Linked DNA regions of Homo sapiens: region 2 is linked to region 1. A link means that fine-mapping ties the variant in region 1 to the expression of a gene that starts in the linked region. Tissue or cell type: whole blood. Region 1 holds a variant in brackets; the other region holds the start of a gene. All regions are shown on one strand. Distances are between the middles of the regions.

Evidence for each region. PIP is the estimated chance that this variant, and not a neighbour inherited with it, causes the effect.
Region 2: it holds the start of TREML4, and the variant in region 1 is fine-mapped to the expression of TREML4 in whole blood (TOPMed, PIP above 0.99).

What each region holds. Positions count from the first base shown.
Region 1 is chr6:41,186,314-41,194,418 of GRCh38, forward strand. It overlaps TREML2 (triggering receptor expressed on myeloid cells like 2), which reads right to left. Exons shown (of 5, transcript NM_024807.4): 4 at 6,488-6,588; 5 at 3,436-6,193. The coding sequence ends at 6,114. It overlaps LOC107986595 (a long non-coding RNA gene), which reads right to left and starts at 76. Exons shown (of 3, transcript XR_001744118.2): 1 at 1-76. RefSeq lists enhancers at 5,030-5,537, 5,156-5,225. The variant G/C (reference allele first, on the strand shown) is at 4,081.
Region 2 is chr6:41,223,393-41,231,497 of GRCh38, forward strand. TREML4 (triggering receptor expressed on myeloid cells like 4) reads left to right here and starts at 4,957. Exons shown (of 6, transcript NM_198153.3): 1 at 4,957-5,098; 2 at 5,322-5,652; 3 at 6,129-6,179; 4 at 6,670-6,730. The coding sequence starts at 5,036. LOC105375055 (a long non-coding RNA gene) reads left to right here. Exons shown (of 3, transcript XR_926794.3): 3 at 521-2,436.

The sequences.
Region 1 (8,105 bases):
GCCACCTCCCTCCCACTGGCGCTGGGGTGGGAAAAGCTGAGAAAGTCCAGGAGGAAACTATGGCGAAATAAAAACCTCTTTCTCCTCTCTCCCCTCTATTCTACCACTTCCTCCCCAGCCTGAAGTTTCTCTTCCTCACCCAGCTAACACACAGGCTGAAGGTGAGTGACAGTGTTAGGGAGCCTTTTGGAGGTCTGACTAGAACCTGAAGACCCATTGGCTCCCAGGGGTCAGAGACTTCATGACCAGGCCTGCCTGGAACCGGGGAGTTCCATGTCAACAGGAGGGGAAGAGGAGAAAAGAGATGGAGATTCACTTCCAGGAATGGAGGTGCAGGGGGTGTCTATGGCAAAGGTGGGAGAGAGTAAAGCCTGGGGAGGGGAAGATGGGGAAGGGAGGAGGAGGGGAAAGGGTATCTCAGTCCCCAGATCATCTCCTTCCCCAGCTCTGAGCTGCCATAATCACTCCAGAGCCTTTGATGAAAGATGACACTAATCAAACACATTTAAAAATAATTGTCCTTAGATGAACTATAGAAAATCAATTGTCACAGGCGATTGACAGTTAATAAACAACAAAGAAAAGAAAAACTATAAACCGTGGTGCTGCAGGTTGGGTTCCTGGGCACAGAGTCAGCTGCAGATTAGCACTGGAGGTTTAAAGCGCTCTGGGACCAACATCTGGGGAAGAGAAGAGCAGGAAGCAGGATGGGGCATGTGAATCCAAAATATCAGAGAGAGGCCTCAATCAATTCAGAAAGTCTACTTTGCCAAGGTTAAGGACATGCCTATAATAGTCTCAGGAGCCCTGAAGACATGTGCCCAAGGTGGTTGGGGCACAGCTTGTTTTTATACATGTTAGGGAGACGTGAGGCATCAATAATTATATGTAAGATGTATATCGACTCGGTCTGGACCAATGTGCATTTGGTCCAGGGTTTGTGTGGACGGGGCAGTGGGAAAGGCGGCTTCCAAGTCGTAGATAGATAAGAGACAAAAGGTTGCATTCTTTTAAGTCCTCTATCAGTCTTTCACTGAACACACAATTTAGTCTGGCTCAGTGAATCTGCATTTTTACATAAACAATAGGGCAGAGAAGCAATCAGATACGCATTTGTCCTAGGCAAGCAGAGGGATAACTTTCTTTCCTGCACCTGTGAAGACCAGCTAGCAGTTTACATTGCCAGGGTGAAAATCAACAGAACTGTTTTAGGGTAAAGATCTCAAGGCCCACAAAGAATTGTCTTGTGGGCAAATTGTGAGGGAGGTACATAGTTTTTTAATCTTTGTAGCTATCTTATTTAGGAATAAAATGCGAGGCCAGTTTGCCTGCTGTAGTTCCCAGCTTGATTTTTCCCCTGGCTTAGTGATTTTGGGGTTCTGAGATTTATTTTCCTTTCACAGGCAGAAGGAGAAGTCAGGCTGCAATAGAGGCCATAAGGAGACTCAGGCTATCCTGGGAGGAGTTCCTAAGACAGGATGGCCCTTCAGGACTTGTCAGTCAGGGGAGGTGGGGTGTCCTGGGAGGGGAGTCTGGCCTTGGCAAGGTGGCTTTCTGCAGCTGAGGAAGACCCCAGAGAAGCTGGCAGAGGAGACCTGCCCTCACCACTCCTAATGTCCATCAGTCCCACATGAGGAGCTGGCAGCACGGCATCCACTCTCTCAATTTGATCCAGAGTGAAAGCATGTTGCAGCCATTGAAGAGAACTGTAAACCTAATGCCTGCTTGCTGGGCTCCATGCAGGTGTGTGTATATCCAGGAGGTACTGGATTTACTTTATTTGTTCTTCCATTGGCCATGATGGCCAGCCCTTCCCAGGTGTGTGTTCTATGTCCACAGCCTGTTGCTCAGGAAGCTTTATTGTCTCACCTGCTAAAGTGAGCAGCCTGTCCGATGCCCCACCTGCCCTGCACCTTCCTGCCGTGGATCTGCTGTGGATCTGGGTCCCTGGAGCTTCGAGAAGAAGGTTGAGAGAGGAGGGAGGAAGTGAAAGGCTGGTGTGTTTAGGAAAGTGTCCAGTTGGGGCTGGGGATATGGGGCTTGGTCTATAGCTCCTCAGCCCCCGTGTCCTTACCATGGGAGTTCATATGGGAGCAGGCTCCTAGGGTGAGCAAATTGTGCTGGTTCACTTGGTTCCAGGAACCCCTCAGGGGCATACAGGGACAGTTGGTCACCCTCACAGCTACCGTGCTCTACTTCAGGACACAGCTAAAGGCCTCTGCTTGGGTTCAGCAACCAGCTGGTGAGTGGCCATGTCCCCTTCCACCCTCCACAGCCCTTCTCGTCAAGCCTCCCCATGGCTCCCAGCTGCCATGGCCTGTGCAGTCTCTGCACCTAGATCTCACCTCCTGACTCCACCCTGTGGTTTGCGCCTCAGATAGAGCCCCACCTCCTCCCTGAAGCCTGCCTGGCTAGCCAGAGCCTGCAGGATTCCCAGTTCCCCATCTTGGAAGGACTTGAGAACCTCCTATCTCTTGCACTGTGGTGTCTTACCCTGTGCTAAGGTCTGGGGTGTACCCAGCAGTGCCATGTCTCCCTTCCCTCAGAGGCTGTGAGCAGATTGAGGCCAGGGCTGGTTCTTGTTCTTTTCCGGTGTGCCCCACCTCATTAATGCTGAGCTGTGTCCATGCAACTGTTCTGCACATGTTACTGGAAAGGGATCCCGATCCAGACCCCAAGAGAGGGTTCTTGGATCTCATGCAAGAAAGAATTCAGGGTAAATGCATATGGTAAAATGAAAGCAAGTTTATTTAAAAAGTAAAGGAATAAAGAATGGCTACTCTATAGGCAGAGCAGCAACATGGGCTGCTTAGCTGCTTATATTTATTGTTACTTCTTGATTATATGCTAAACAAGGGGTGGATTATTCATGAGTTTTCCAGGAAAGGGGTGGGCAATTCCTGGAGCTGAGGGTTCCTCCTCTTTTCAGACCATATAAGGTAACTTCCTGATGTTGCCATGGCATTTGTAAGCTGACATGGTGCTGGTGGGAGTGTCTCTTATCATGCTAATGCATTATAATTTGCATATAATGTGCAGTGAGGACAGCCAGAGGTCACTCTCATTGCCATCTTGGTTTTGGTGGGTTTTAGCTGATTTCTTTACTGCAAACCTGTTTTATCAGCAAGGTCTTTATGACCTGTATCTTGTGTCAACCTATCTCACCCTGTGACTTAGAATGCCTAACATCTGGGAAGGCAACCCGGTAGGTCTCAGCCTTATTTTACTCAGCCTCTATACAAGATGGAGTCCATCTGGTTTAAACACCTCTGACACACATACCCAAGGAAGTCAGAAGAGGCTTCAGAGCTCCTCTCCACCCTCCTGTTACAGTCTCACCAGTGCACCACAATGTAGCAGTCTCTCATTGTTTGAGGTATCACTGGAGTTCTTTGTCTCACAACAATGAAAATTAAGGAGCGTGGACACCAAGGATGAGGTTGGAGTGAAAGTTTAATGAGTGAGAGAAGAAAGCTCTCTGCTGTGGAGAGGAGGCCTGAAAGAGGGTTGCCATTTTTACAGTTGAATGTAAAGGCTTTTATAAGAAACCGATGAGGACTGGGCAGCTCATCTGCATAAGGCATGAATTTCTGGTAGCTCCCTGCTGTCCTTCTAATGTACATGTGGGCCCTTGGCTTGAGTTACTTACTCCATATTGCTTTGTTCCCCTTACTGCACATGTCAGGGGATGAAATTTTCCATTGCAGGCATGTTTGGGCAAGTCACCTGTGTAGTCTGTCTTATCTATGAGGCTGTGGGCATGTCTTAGGCAAGCCCCCCTGTGCAAGTTCCCATATCTGTGCCTGCAGCTTGATTTTTCAGGCTGTTCTTTTGTTTAAAAGAATTCTACCGAGAACCCACCCTAACTGCCTGCCTGACTGGTTTCTTCCTTTCTCCTCTCTCACTCCTTCTCCAGATGAGGAAACAAGATCAGAGAGGGACAGTGACTTGCCAAGTTCACACTGAGATGAGTCCACCCTGTACCCTCCCCTCCTCAAAAGAGGACCTTACCAAAGGGACTGTCATCGGGGGCCCTCAACATCCATATAGTGATGACACTTGGGAAGAGATATGACAAAA[G/C]CAAGAAACAGAATCCTAAGGTCTTAAATGTAATGTTGGAAACAACATTAGAGCTGGAAAACAACTTAAGGAATAATGGTAATGAGGCATTTGCATCATTGTACAATGCTAATGTTATTTTATCTTGAAAACAATCTTGAGAAGTAGGAATTATTGTCCTCTTTCACAAGACAGGAAAAATGAGGCCAAGGGTTAGTGACTTGCTGAGGGTCACACAGTGACAGAGTGGTATCCTGGTCCCTGTCCCTGACTTCTTCCCTAGGGCTCCTCCTCCTGGGCATCTCACTCAGAGGAAGCAGGGCCATCAGTGGTACTGGTGCCAGCTCTTGGGGAGCTATTTTCCCCCAGGTGGGTTAAGTTCTCTCCTAGTATACAACAGGATGGTGGCTACACCGTCATGATAGGGAGAACAGCTATCTTAGGAGGCTGCTTGCTAGACAGAGATGGGTGTGTGTGCGTGTCTGTCTGTCTGTCTGTCTGTCTGTCTGTCTGTCTGTCCTGGGTCCAGAGCCGTCAATTCTTCAGCCTCAGTCTTCCCTCTATTGCCCTCTCCTGGACATAGGGAAGAAGTGCCTCCTCCCTGCTGTCCCCCAGGATTACTCCCTGCCTCTTCCACTCTCCCCACATCCATCCTGAAGTGGCCCCTCTGGCTGTCCACCAGGGTCCTGGCTGTGTCACTCTCTTGGCCATTGGAACGTCCCTGACCCAGGGTTCAATGCACAGTTGTCACATTTATCCCCAGGTGCTATTCCAGTCACTCCAGGTCAGTAGACACCTGTGTGTGTGTGTGTGTGTGTGTGTGTGTGTGTGTGTGTGTGTGTGTGTGTGTAGGGGAATCCAGGCTGCATTCTCCAGCCTTCATTGCTGGACGCCAAGCCAGTGCTCTGGACAATAGAGGCTGAGTCTGAGCCCTGAGTCAGTGGGTGGGAGGCAGATTCCTCGGGACATTGGGTCCCTGGCCAGAGGCTACTTGGGCTCCATTTTCCCTGTCCCCCTGCCTGGGCCAGTCCTCCAGGCCGTGGTCAGTTCCAAGTTACTGTCTTCACTGTGTCCCAAGTGTGTCTTCTCTCTCTATCCTGAGGGGTAGGAGGAGGGTTGCTCCACCCTTCCTCTGAGCCATGGTCTCCCCACCAGTGTCTGTGGGGTGAGCAGCCTCCATACAGAGCCAAGGTCTCAGCCACCCCAGGGTATGGACTTCCTGGAGGCTGCTGGGTCCCCTGTGGGAACTCAGACTTGGAGCCCAGGTGTAGAAGCTGGGGGAGAGAGCCCCAAGTCCAGCCTCTGCACTTCAGTCTTGGGAGAGGCTGACCCTGCAGCCCAGAGGCTCTTAGCTGCCTGGTCACAGCTTTCTAAGGAGGCAGCGGCCAGCAGGAGGCAGCAGTGAGAGCGTGGGCTCTGCGCGGTCCCAGGACAGGAGGGAGGAGCAGCCCCAGTCAGGGCAGGGCCATCCAGAGGCCCAGCAAAGGACACCTGTCCCGACAAGAGAAGCTGCCAACCCCTCTGTGGGTCCCCAGCTTTTAGTCACTGTTTCCTCTCCTCCAGGATGGGACATCACTGCCTCTGGCATTCGTGAGCCCGATTCTTTCTTCCCTAACCTTAGGGGAAGCTGAAGCAGAACGGAGGGAAGCAGAGGACACAGTGGCCCTGGTGGGGAGGGCAGCTCAGCCCAATAGGGTTTCTGAGGCAGACGGGAGCTGAGGTTCTCTGTAAACAGCACTCTCAGGGTTCCCCTGCCTCCACCAAGAGCCCTGGGGTCTGCAGCTCCGAGCAGAAACCACTGGTCACATTTCCTCGGGACTTTCTCCCTGATGCCCTTTGCTCTGGGCCCCTCCCCAGGTTCCTGCCCCCAAGGAGAACACTGGGCTGTGGGGCTGCTTAGGATGGCAGCCTCTGGGTTTGGGAAGTCCTGGGTGAGTCCAGCACTGCACAAGTCCTCCAGCTTCATAAGATCGATACTGGCCCCAATCTTCACCCCTCCTCTAACCCCCTGGGGCCACTCTGGGAGAAGCTCCCCACCCCATGCTTAAGTGGCCTCAGATCAAGTAGACTTCCACATAGGGCTCTGGTCTTCCAGGTGGGTCACGTGTAGAAGGATCGCTGCACATGCTGTAGCCTGCAAGAAACAGGGAGAGCTGAGGAAGTGTCCTGCCCTGCCCACGGTGCCCCGATGCTCCTCCACCAGCCCCAGCCCCTTTCTGGCTCTGCCTCTGGTTCCTTCCAGGTCATCCCCTTAGGGTTGTGCTGGGTGGTCTCCGCCTGGCCGCCCTCCTCCCCAGGTGGAAGCGTCATAGTCCTTTTGACTGGACACAGGCCAAGGGCCATACCACGTGGGGACTCGAGGTCATAACCCTTAGTGCAGTTACCCAGAGCTCTGCCCTCAGGAGGCTGGGAGGTGGGCTCTACTCACTTGCCATGTGTCTCTTCTTCCAAAACCCATAGACCATGATCAGCATCAGCACCAGGAGGGTCAGCACCACCCCAAGCACAGTGGAGTAAACATCCTGGTGCCTGAGAAGAAGGGACAGGGTGGAAGCGGGTGAGCACCAAGGTCCCCCATCCTAACCCACGTTGGGATCGGACCAGCAGCAGAAACCCTGAGAGCGTGCCCTTCCCGGGGTAGACGGCCACCCTCTTCCTTACAGACCCGGCCACAGAAGCAAGTGTGACATCCGGAGTTAAGAGGAGGACGTCCCCAGGTAGAGGGGAACATCTCTCTACTTTGGTACCTCTCCTCCATTATGCCCCCAAATCTGTTCATCAGTGAGGATGAGGATTCTAGGAGACTCCCATTTGTGGCTAAAGAGATCAAGATGCTTGCTCTCCTCAAGGGGTCTGAGGATGCCTGTTCCCCCACTCTATCCTCTGTAGCAGATGCTGTCGGGCCCCTGCCTGTGTCCTCTTGCCTGTGTCATTTCCACCTGCACACATCATCAGCACCTCCTTTTCTGTGGGTGGGAGGCTGAGGCCTTTCTCTTGTCACTAGAGCCCTCTATGCCACACACAGCAGGCAGCCCTCTACTGATAACCAATTGGAGTTGGTGTGTAACTATGCGGGCTCCTTTGCCCTTCAGATGTGTGTTTTATGCTAGATCTGACTCTCCCCGTTGGGATTAGGCTCTTGTTGTGCACAGCAGCTGCTTGGTTAAGTACTCTTTATTAGAGGCCTTCCCTGCCCTGTCCCACTCCCCCACCTTTTTTCCAGTGTTCATATAAGACGCAAATCCCTGACTCAGAGTCAGTTTCTCTAGAGGAATCCAAATTAAAGCATCCCCCATTTTCCACTTCCTACTCCATGAGGCGCATCCTTGCCCTATCCTCACCCTCTCCTCTCCATCCACAGACACTTCAGGACACCCATCCCCTGACATGCTCATCTCTGACTCTCATCCCCCCTGGCCCTAATTCTACCAACTCTCATTGCCCCCTACCCTCATCTCTGCAGCCCCCCTCTCCCCTGATACTCCTCCCACTGACCTTCTTCTCTGACTCTCCTCCCCCACAACCTTCATTTACCCCCATCCTCATCCCCCTGACCCTAATGCCCCCGACTCTCATAGTCCCCTGCCCTCATCCCTGCAACCCTCATCTCCCCCTACCTTTATCCCGACCCTCCTCTCTGCTGACACTTCCCCCACCTTCCTCCCACCAACTCCGCTCCCCACTGACCCTCATCCTTCCTGATCCTCCTTTCACCTGACCTTCCTCCTCCCTGATCCTCCTCCCCCGACCCTCCTTTCCCCTGTCCCTCCTGTCCCCACCCTTCTTTCCCCTGCCCCTCCTCCCCACTGACCCTCCTTTCCCCTGCCCCTCCTCCCCACCCCCGACCCTCCTTTCCCCTGCCCCTCCTCTCTCCTGCCCCTCCTCTCCATTGCCATCCTTTATGTCACTTCCAGTCCCCCACCTCACATTCAGAAGCAGGCCACATTGGGTTCCTGGGGAGCAAAAGGGGAAGGTCAGATATAAGACTTGCACCTCCAGGTCTGTTTGGGCACTAAGTGCTGGTGCCACTCAACCCCAGGCCCCAC
Region 2 (8,105 bases), 37 kb after region 1:
TTCTGGGGAGTTTAAGTAATCAACTTGTTTTTAGAGCAGTTTAGGTTCTCAAAACAATGAGAGAAAGTACATAGAGTTCCCGTATACCTCCTGCTCCTCACATGCACAGCCCCCCACTATCCACATCCTGCCCAGGGGTCCGGCTGTTACAGCCGGCTACCCTACATTGAGGCACCCTGTCCTGTCATCAAGCACACAACCGTCCTGAGGGCTCACTTTTGCTGCTGAGCACGCGCTGTCTGTGCTTTGACAGACGTGTGATGACATCAACTCATCATTGTGGGATCACACAGTTGCCCCACTGCCCTCCAAATCCCCTGTGCTCCCTCGTTCATCCCCTCTGTTTATAAATAGGGAAAAGGTTATTCCAAAACTGGCTTCAGTTCAGTGATTAGTGTGGAGGAAAAAGGGCTCCATGTAAAATAAAGCTTCTTCCCCAAAGCCTCGGAATTTTAACCCTCAGAGGGCAGAGGGCCCACGTTGGCTTTCCTTTCTTTACTTGGTCTTCTCTGCCCTCCAGCTGCAGTTTGGGAAGCCTCCAGGCCTGGAGCATGGAGAGGAGAAGAGGAAGGGTCAGGAAAGTCTGGTGATGACCCAAAGAGTTCAAGCTGAGGTTTCTCAGAGGGCACCGTTGTGGGCTCTTCCGATGACACCCTGCCTGTCACCTGCAGCTTCCTCATGTAGCCTTGGATCTCCTTCCTGGTGGGTGCTCCTGACATCTCCTTCAGCCTCCAAGCCTTTCGCAGTCCACTTCCAGCTTCCTGCCATGCGTCCCTCCACCTCCAGCAGGCCTTTTGGGTGGGATCTACAACCACCCATGCTGGGTGCCTCACATCTGTGCAGCCCAACATCTGGCCCACGGAAGCCATCCACTTCCTTCACCCCAACAAAGTCATGGAGCCTGGGGGCCCCCACAAGGTCACCTCTCCTCCATTCCACCATCAGGACAGCTTGCCGCCTGCTGTCTCTACCCAATACAGCTCTCAGACTGAATCCAACTCAGCTGCTACATCTCCCAGACTGCAGGGGCCACAACCATCTTTCCAAGTTGTGACCCTATCTCAAGCCTCTCCCTAGGTTTGAGATAAGATGCAGGAATCTAACCCTCTCCTCCCCCAGGGTCACAGCACAACTACCAGCTGTCTCCAAAAGTCCTCTCCCAATCTTCACACTCCTCACAACTTTCTACCCTTGATGTGTGTGAGGGATTCATTCCTCAAAGAAGGTTTCAATACCTTTTGGCATGTGCTTCACACTGGCCTCCCACCTCACTCTGACAGATAGCATATATTTTCTTGGGACTTGCATTAGTCAAGATTTAGCTGCAAACTACAAAATCCAAGCTACGGATTTTAAGGAGAAAGAGATTTTTAAAATCAAACATTAAATGCTTTACAGAATCAGATCCTATGTAATTTCTGGGCATCACTCTTAAAGCCACAGGATGGGCTACTAAGGGACCACTGCCTTTGCCACAGTCAACACCCTTTCCAAATCAGGCAACTTTCCAAATCTGGAAGCTGCCATCACAGCCCTGGCTAAAGAACCCCTCCATCTCACCCATAGTCTACCGGCACAATGGATGCCTCTCTTCCCATTCTAGCTCACTTCCTCATTTAAGTCTCATACAAATACATTGAATGGGTGGGACCTAAAATATATCTGGAACCCTAGCTGCAAAGGAATCAGAAATGATCTTGTAGACCTTTTACTATAGAAAGACCCATGAAAAAGAGGTGGCAGCCACTCATAGTGGCTCACACCTGTAATTCTAGCACTCTGGGAGGCTAAGCTGGGTGGATCTCTTGAGTCCAGGAGTTCAAGACAAGCCTGGCCAACATGGTGAAACGTTGTCTCTATGAAAAGCAATAATAATAATAATAACAAGGTGCATTGGTGTGTGCCCACACTCCCAGCTACTCAGGAGGCTGAGGTGGGAGGATCACTTGAGCCCTGGGAGGTCAAGGCTGCAATGAGCCATGATCACACCACTGCACTGCAACCTGGGCGAAAGTGTAAAACTCCATCTCAAGAAAAGAAAAAGAGAGACAGAAGAAGAAAAAAGAAAGAAAGAAAGAAAGAAAAGAAAAGAAAAAAGAAGGAAGGAAGGAAGGAGAAAGAAAAAGAGAGAGAAGGAAAGAAGGAAGGAAGGAAGGAAGGAAGGGAAGAAAGAAAGAGGTGGCAATGAATATATAGTGAGTTCACAGTGTCTACCTGAATACTCTCAGCCAAAACTGAGATCACAATAGTTAAAATTTATAAGTTTTGTTGTTTCTTTTGCTGTCAATGAAAGTCAAATATGACTAAGTGAAAAATAAACATATAGTATTTGCTTTGTTATGTCAAATAAACGCTATTTGTAAAAATATAGTATTTGCCTTGTTACACCAAATAAACCCTATTCTGTAGTATAAACGTTATAGTAACAAATTTTCATTTACAGCAATCAGTACATCGGACACTATGTGTGACATATCACACTGAAGGCATCAAATGATACAGATGCAGAGAATAAATTCCTATTTTCCTCTTCCAGAATTTATCATACTTTTCTTAGAAACTTCAGTGTGTTTAAGAAAATGACTCTTATTACCATCAAGTGTTAGTAGGTGCTTTACACCTAGCCGTACTAAGATTTCTTAAAACTTTGCTGTTTGTTATGTACACGCTGTTTGTTATGTATCAAGTGATTATTCATATGCTTTGTGTAAATCGTTTCTATACATATTAAAACTAATCTTTTACACTTAGAATGCTTTCAGATTCACAGAAGAGTTGTGTAGGTATTGCATACTTCCCTGATGTGCTATGTTCAATGTCTTCTATTATTAATATAGTCCAATAGTATGCTACATTTCTCACAATTAATGAGTTGATATTGATACATTACTATAATTTTACAAAATTGATGAGTAGAACTCATATATTTATAATGCGTGGTAGGATAGTTTGATGTGTGTATTAACTGTGAAATTACTAAATCAAGCAATACCACATATACTTACTTGTTTTGTGGTGAGAACATTTAAAATCTATTTTCTGTCATTTTCAATTGTACAATTCATAGTTATGAACTGCACTCACCATACTGTGCAATAGATCTCTTGAACTTATTTTTTCTGTCTAACATATTGTGTTTCTTCAACAATACCTACCCAGTTTGTCCAATTCCCAGCCTCTGGTAATGCCATTCTACTCTGTTTCTGTGGTAGATTTTATTAATTGAAGTCCTTACTTCATTCAGATTACCCTGGCTTTTACCTCATGTACTTTCTGTGCTCCAGGATCCCACCTAGGAAGCCACATTGCTTTTAGTCTTCATGTCTGCTTAGGCTCCTCTTATTCATAGCAGTTTCTGAGAATTATTTCTTAGTTTTGATGGCCTTGACAGTTTTGAGGAACGCTGCTCAGGTATTTTGTAGAATGTCCCTCATGTGGAATTTGTTTGATGTTTTTCTCCTGGGGCCAGCGGCTTTGGGGAAGGAGACTGCACAGCTAATTGCCCTGTCATCACATCAAGTCAATGACACATTCTAACAACCTGAGTTATCCCTGTGGGTCTGCACTTTGGTTGCCTGGCTGCCACAGTAAGTGTCAGGTTTCTCCACTGTACAGTTACTCTTCTCTTCCTTCCCATGCTATCCTCTGGAGGAAAGTCACCTGCACAGCCCATGCTTAAGCCGTGGGAATTTATGCTTCTGCCTTGAGGGCAGAATACCTATAAGAATTGTTTGCAATCTCTCTCAGTCCCTTCAGGCTGCTATGAGAAGATGCCTTAGACTGGAGACTTTCTAAATAATAGAAATCTCTTTCTCAAAGTTCTGGAGTCTGGGAAGTCAAAGATCAAGGTGTCAGTGGATGTGGTATCTGCTGAGGGCTGCTCTCTGCTTCCAAGGTGGTGCTTTCTTGCAGTAACCTCAGTTGACTGAAGGCATGAACACTGTCCTCATATGGCAGACAGCGCAAATCTGCTTCCTGCAATCTCTGGTATAAGGGCATTAATTGCATTCTTGAGGATGACGCCCTCATGACTTAAGATTTTCCCACAAGATCCCACCTCTTAACGCTATCACATGGAAATTAAGTTTGAATATATGAGATGGGGGAACAACATTCTGAACACAGCAGAATCCTTATGCATGGGATATTTGTCTATTCCCCCCCCCAGTTCTTTATTCAGTCATTTACTTACATCAGCATGGACTCCTAGAGATTTAATATATACATTGGGTAGTAATCCAGTACCACTTGGTTTTGTTGCTAGATAGTTCTCACTTCGGCCATTTTCTTTTTCTGTACATTTTACACACGCGTTGTTCTTTCATCCACTGATGTATTCATCCAACAAGCACTGATTGAGATGATCCCAAGCTACCATAACTGATCCACTCCTACCTGCCTTCCCCTCCAACTTTCCCTGACCAGCACTCTCTTTCCTCCCTGCTTTCCTGGCCCCACCATTTCCAGGGAACATCTTGTAATTCCTGGGATTAAAATCTGCCCTCTACAAAATGTCTCAGGGTCAAAACTCATCATCAACCCACCATGGCTAGACCAGAAGGATTCAGGGGTCTGGTCGTGCCTCCAAGGGCCCTGACCACCTATAGGAAGTGCACAGAGAGAAGGAAAGAGGGATGACCCCAGCTTTATTCACCAGCTTTATTCTTGGCCATGCTGAGAGCTGCCCCTAGCAATAGAGGAGCAGTATGACTGGCTGGAAGGCATAAAGCAGCAGACATGGGGAGAAGTTCAGTGAAAGGCGGCAGAGCAACACAGCAGGGCTGAGGTGCCCAGGCCCAGAGACAGACCCTGTAGCTGGTGGCCCCTTTCAAGGCCTGGCTGCCCCTCCTCCCCTGGTCTGCAGAGCCCGCCCTCCCAGGCCGACCATTTCCCCAGCAAGACATTGACTTCCTCAATTTTACCAGCTGAGAGACACTGGGAACCTGGGGCAGAATCAGACCCAGCGTCTGACTCCTCCTGAGAGGGCTCCCTTTTTTCTCCTCTCCTCCGCTGTCAGAAACAGATCTGGGCTGGAATGGCCTGGGGTGGGGTCCACACCTGCTGCTTCCACCTGTGCTGCTGCTGCTCCTGGCCTCAGGTGACATGGAGGGAAAGAGTGCAGGGGGTGTAAGGAGTGGGATGAAGAATGAGTGGGGCAGGGAGCAGCATGGCTGTGTGACCATAGGACAGAATTTAGGGGCCCTCTTCCATGTGTGGGCATCAGAACTAGTTCCCCCTCCCCTTCCCCAGCCTGTGATGGGGGAGGTTGGGTCCCTTCAGAGCTCTGACCTGGGTTTCTTTCTGCCGGTTCCTGGGTAAAGGGTGCTGTGCCTGAAGAACTTCACAAACACCCAGGACAGACCCTCCTCCTGCAATGCCAGTACTCACCCAAGAGAGGGCCCTATCAGCCCAAATCCTGGTGTCAGCAGACATCTCCAAGTCGGTGTACCTTACTTGTCACCAGCTCCAAGCCCTGGACAGCAGTTCAGAAGTCTCATTACACAATCTGGGACAAGCCCAATGCTGGCTTCTTCAACATCACCATGATTCAGCTGACACAGAATGACTCGGGATTCTACTGGTGTGGAATCTACAACGCTTCCGAAAACATCATCACTGTTCTTAGAAATATCAGCCTGGTGGTGTCTCCAGGTGAGCTCTTTTCTTGAGGAAATACCTCTGTGCCACCCCCCAGGGACCTGAAGGAAATGTCATGCACCCCCTCCCATGCCTCTATCATCCCCCATCCTGCCAGGTATTCTGCTGTGGTCCAAGGGGAGCAAAGATCCTGTCCCCAAACATGGACTCTCACCTCTCCTCCACCCGGTACATCCTGGCCTCAATTGTTGGGAAGGTACCCTCAGAGGTCCCTGGACAGAGACACAGTCTGTCTGTCACTCTGCGTCTCTCTTTGTCTTACACAGGCACACCCACAACTCTTCTTTTCACACACACACTAACACACACACACCAACAACTCTGTCATGCAGATCTTAGGCACAGACCACTCCTGGCTTAAGACATCCTGAGGGTCTGGCTCTGGGCCCCTACCTCCTCTTATGTATGGGGTAGACCCTACTCTCTTCTGGGCCCCTGGAGAGTCATTGTCTGCTGTCTTTTCTCTTTAGCCCCAACCACGTCTCCTATGTGGACTCTTCCCTGGCTCCCAACAAGCACAGGTAGGTTGGAGGCCTCGGTGGGGGAAGATTAGAAGGGTCACCAGGCAGCTTGGGAGCCTCAGATTCAGGGAAGGGGAAACCAGGGAGGCCTGCCTCTGAGGACTGATCTCTTGGGGCCTGGGCTTGTGGGAAGCTACCTTCAGGGCCCACTGTCTCTTAGGGAGAGAAACATGCACTATCTGATGTGATCAGAAGATCGCCATGTTCTCACGATGATGGGAGGGTGTCCCCAGAGGGAAGTCCATATGGAACACCTTGCACACGTGTGTCCCAGCCCTCCTGCCCCTGTCCTCCCGCCAGCATGGAGAGGACAGTGCCAGACTTGACTTCAGCTGGTTATGGAGATCTCAGGCCTCAGTTACCCTTAGCCTGAGGGACCCTTAGGGGCTGCCTCTGGCCCCTCTCCCCTTCCTCTCACACTTTTGGGACCCAATCCCATTCTCTATTCTGGTGCCCTGGGCAGCCACTGTCTTCTTTGTGTCCTCTTTAGTTCTGATCACTTCTCCAGAGGGGACCTCTGGCCATCCCTCCATCAATGGCTCTGAGACCAGGTAGGTCAGAGGTTTTAACACTGGGAGGGAGGTCTTGGGAAGGGAGGGCCTGATTAGCTCCTGAACCTTGGAATCAAGTCCAGGGCACCCAGGGATCCTTCTCTGGTGGGTTGGGGCATAGGTTACAGCCGTGGAGCCCCCAGGCCATGACTCAAAATTTGGTAGTGAGGAAAGGGGAAGAGGATGCAGGTTGTTAATTGTGGAGGAACCATGGAAAAGACAGTTCAACATGGATTTCTGCAATAAAACAAAATGGAACCCAGAAAATGTGGAAATTGGAGGCCGTGTTGGTGTGTTGAGGGGTGAGTATGAATAGAGTCACTGCAGCCTGGGGCAGATGGTGGCTGGAGATGTCAGCCAGAGAAAGATGAGAGGCATACTGTTAAATTCTGCTTCTATTCTTGCAGTCATGGGTTTTGAGGCCATGACGGCCTCCCCTTCACTGGAGGAATAGGCTGCAATAGACTAGGTCACAGGTGCTCTAGGGGACCATGGAGCACAGCAAAAGACATGAGCGATTGATGAAAATAGACAACTAACTGCCAGAGCATTTGCTCCGTAGCCCTCTTCTCCTGCAAACTCCAGCACGGGTAGATTACAAACAGACTATCTCTCAGGGAGTTTGAAGGTGAAACCCTAACCAGAGAAAAAGTATGGCAGCTAATGGGGGTCCCTGGGGTCTTGTGCTCTAGGGCAGTGATCCCCAAGCCTGTTAGAAATTGGGCCATAAAGTAGGGAGTGAGTGGTGAGCCACTGAAGTTCATTTGAATTACAGCCTCTTTCCATAGCTTGCATTACTGCCTGAGCTCTGCCTCCTGTCAAATCAGTGGCAGCATTGGATTCTCATAGTAGCATGAGCCCTGTTGTGAACTGTGCATGCGAGGGTTCTAGGTTGCACGCTCCTTATGATAATTGAATGGCTAATGATCTGTCACTGTCTCCCATCACTCCCAGATGGGACCACCCAGTTGTAGGAAATCAAGTTCAGGGCTCCCACAGATTCTACATTATGTTGAGTTGTATAATTATTTCATTATATATTACAACATGATAATAATAGAAATAAAGTGCACAATAAATATAATGTGCTTTAATCATCCTGAAACCATCCCCGACTCTCAGGTCCATGGAAAATTTGTCTTCCACAAAACAGTTCTCAGGCGCCAAAAAGGTTGGGGACTGTTGCTTTAGGGCTTTTTCCTCTCATTTTTAACCCTCAATGGCTAGAGGATTTAGTCTTCGGTTCTTCCCCATTACCAGATCCGTATCTAATATGCCCAGTGGAATCTGAATTCACAAGCCAAAATACCTAGGCTCTTAGTAGAAGCACTACCTTAAAAGAATGGAAACACACCCAACAATAGAAACCTGTGAA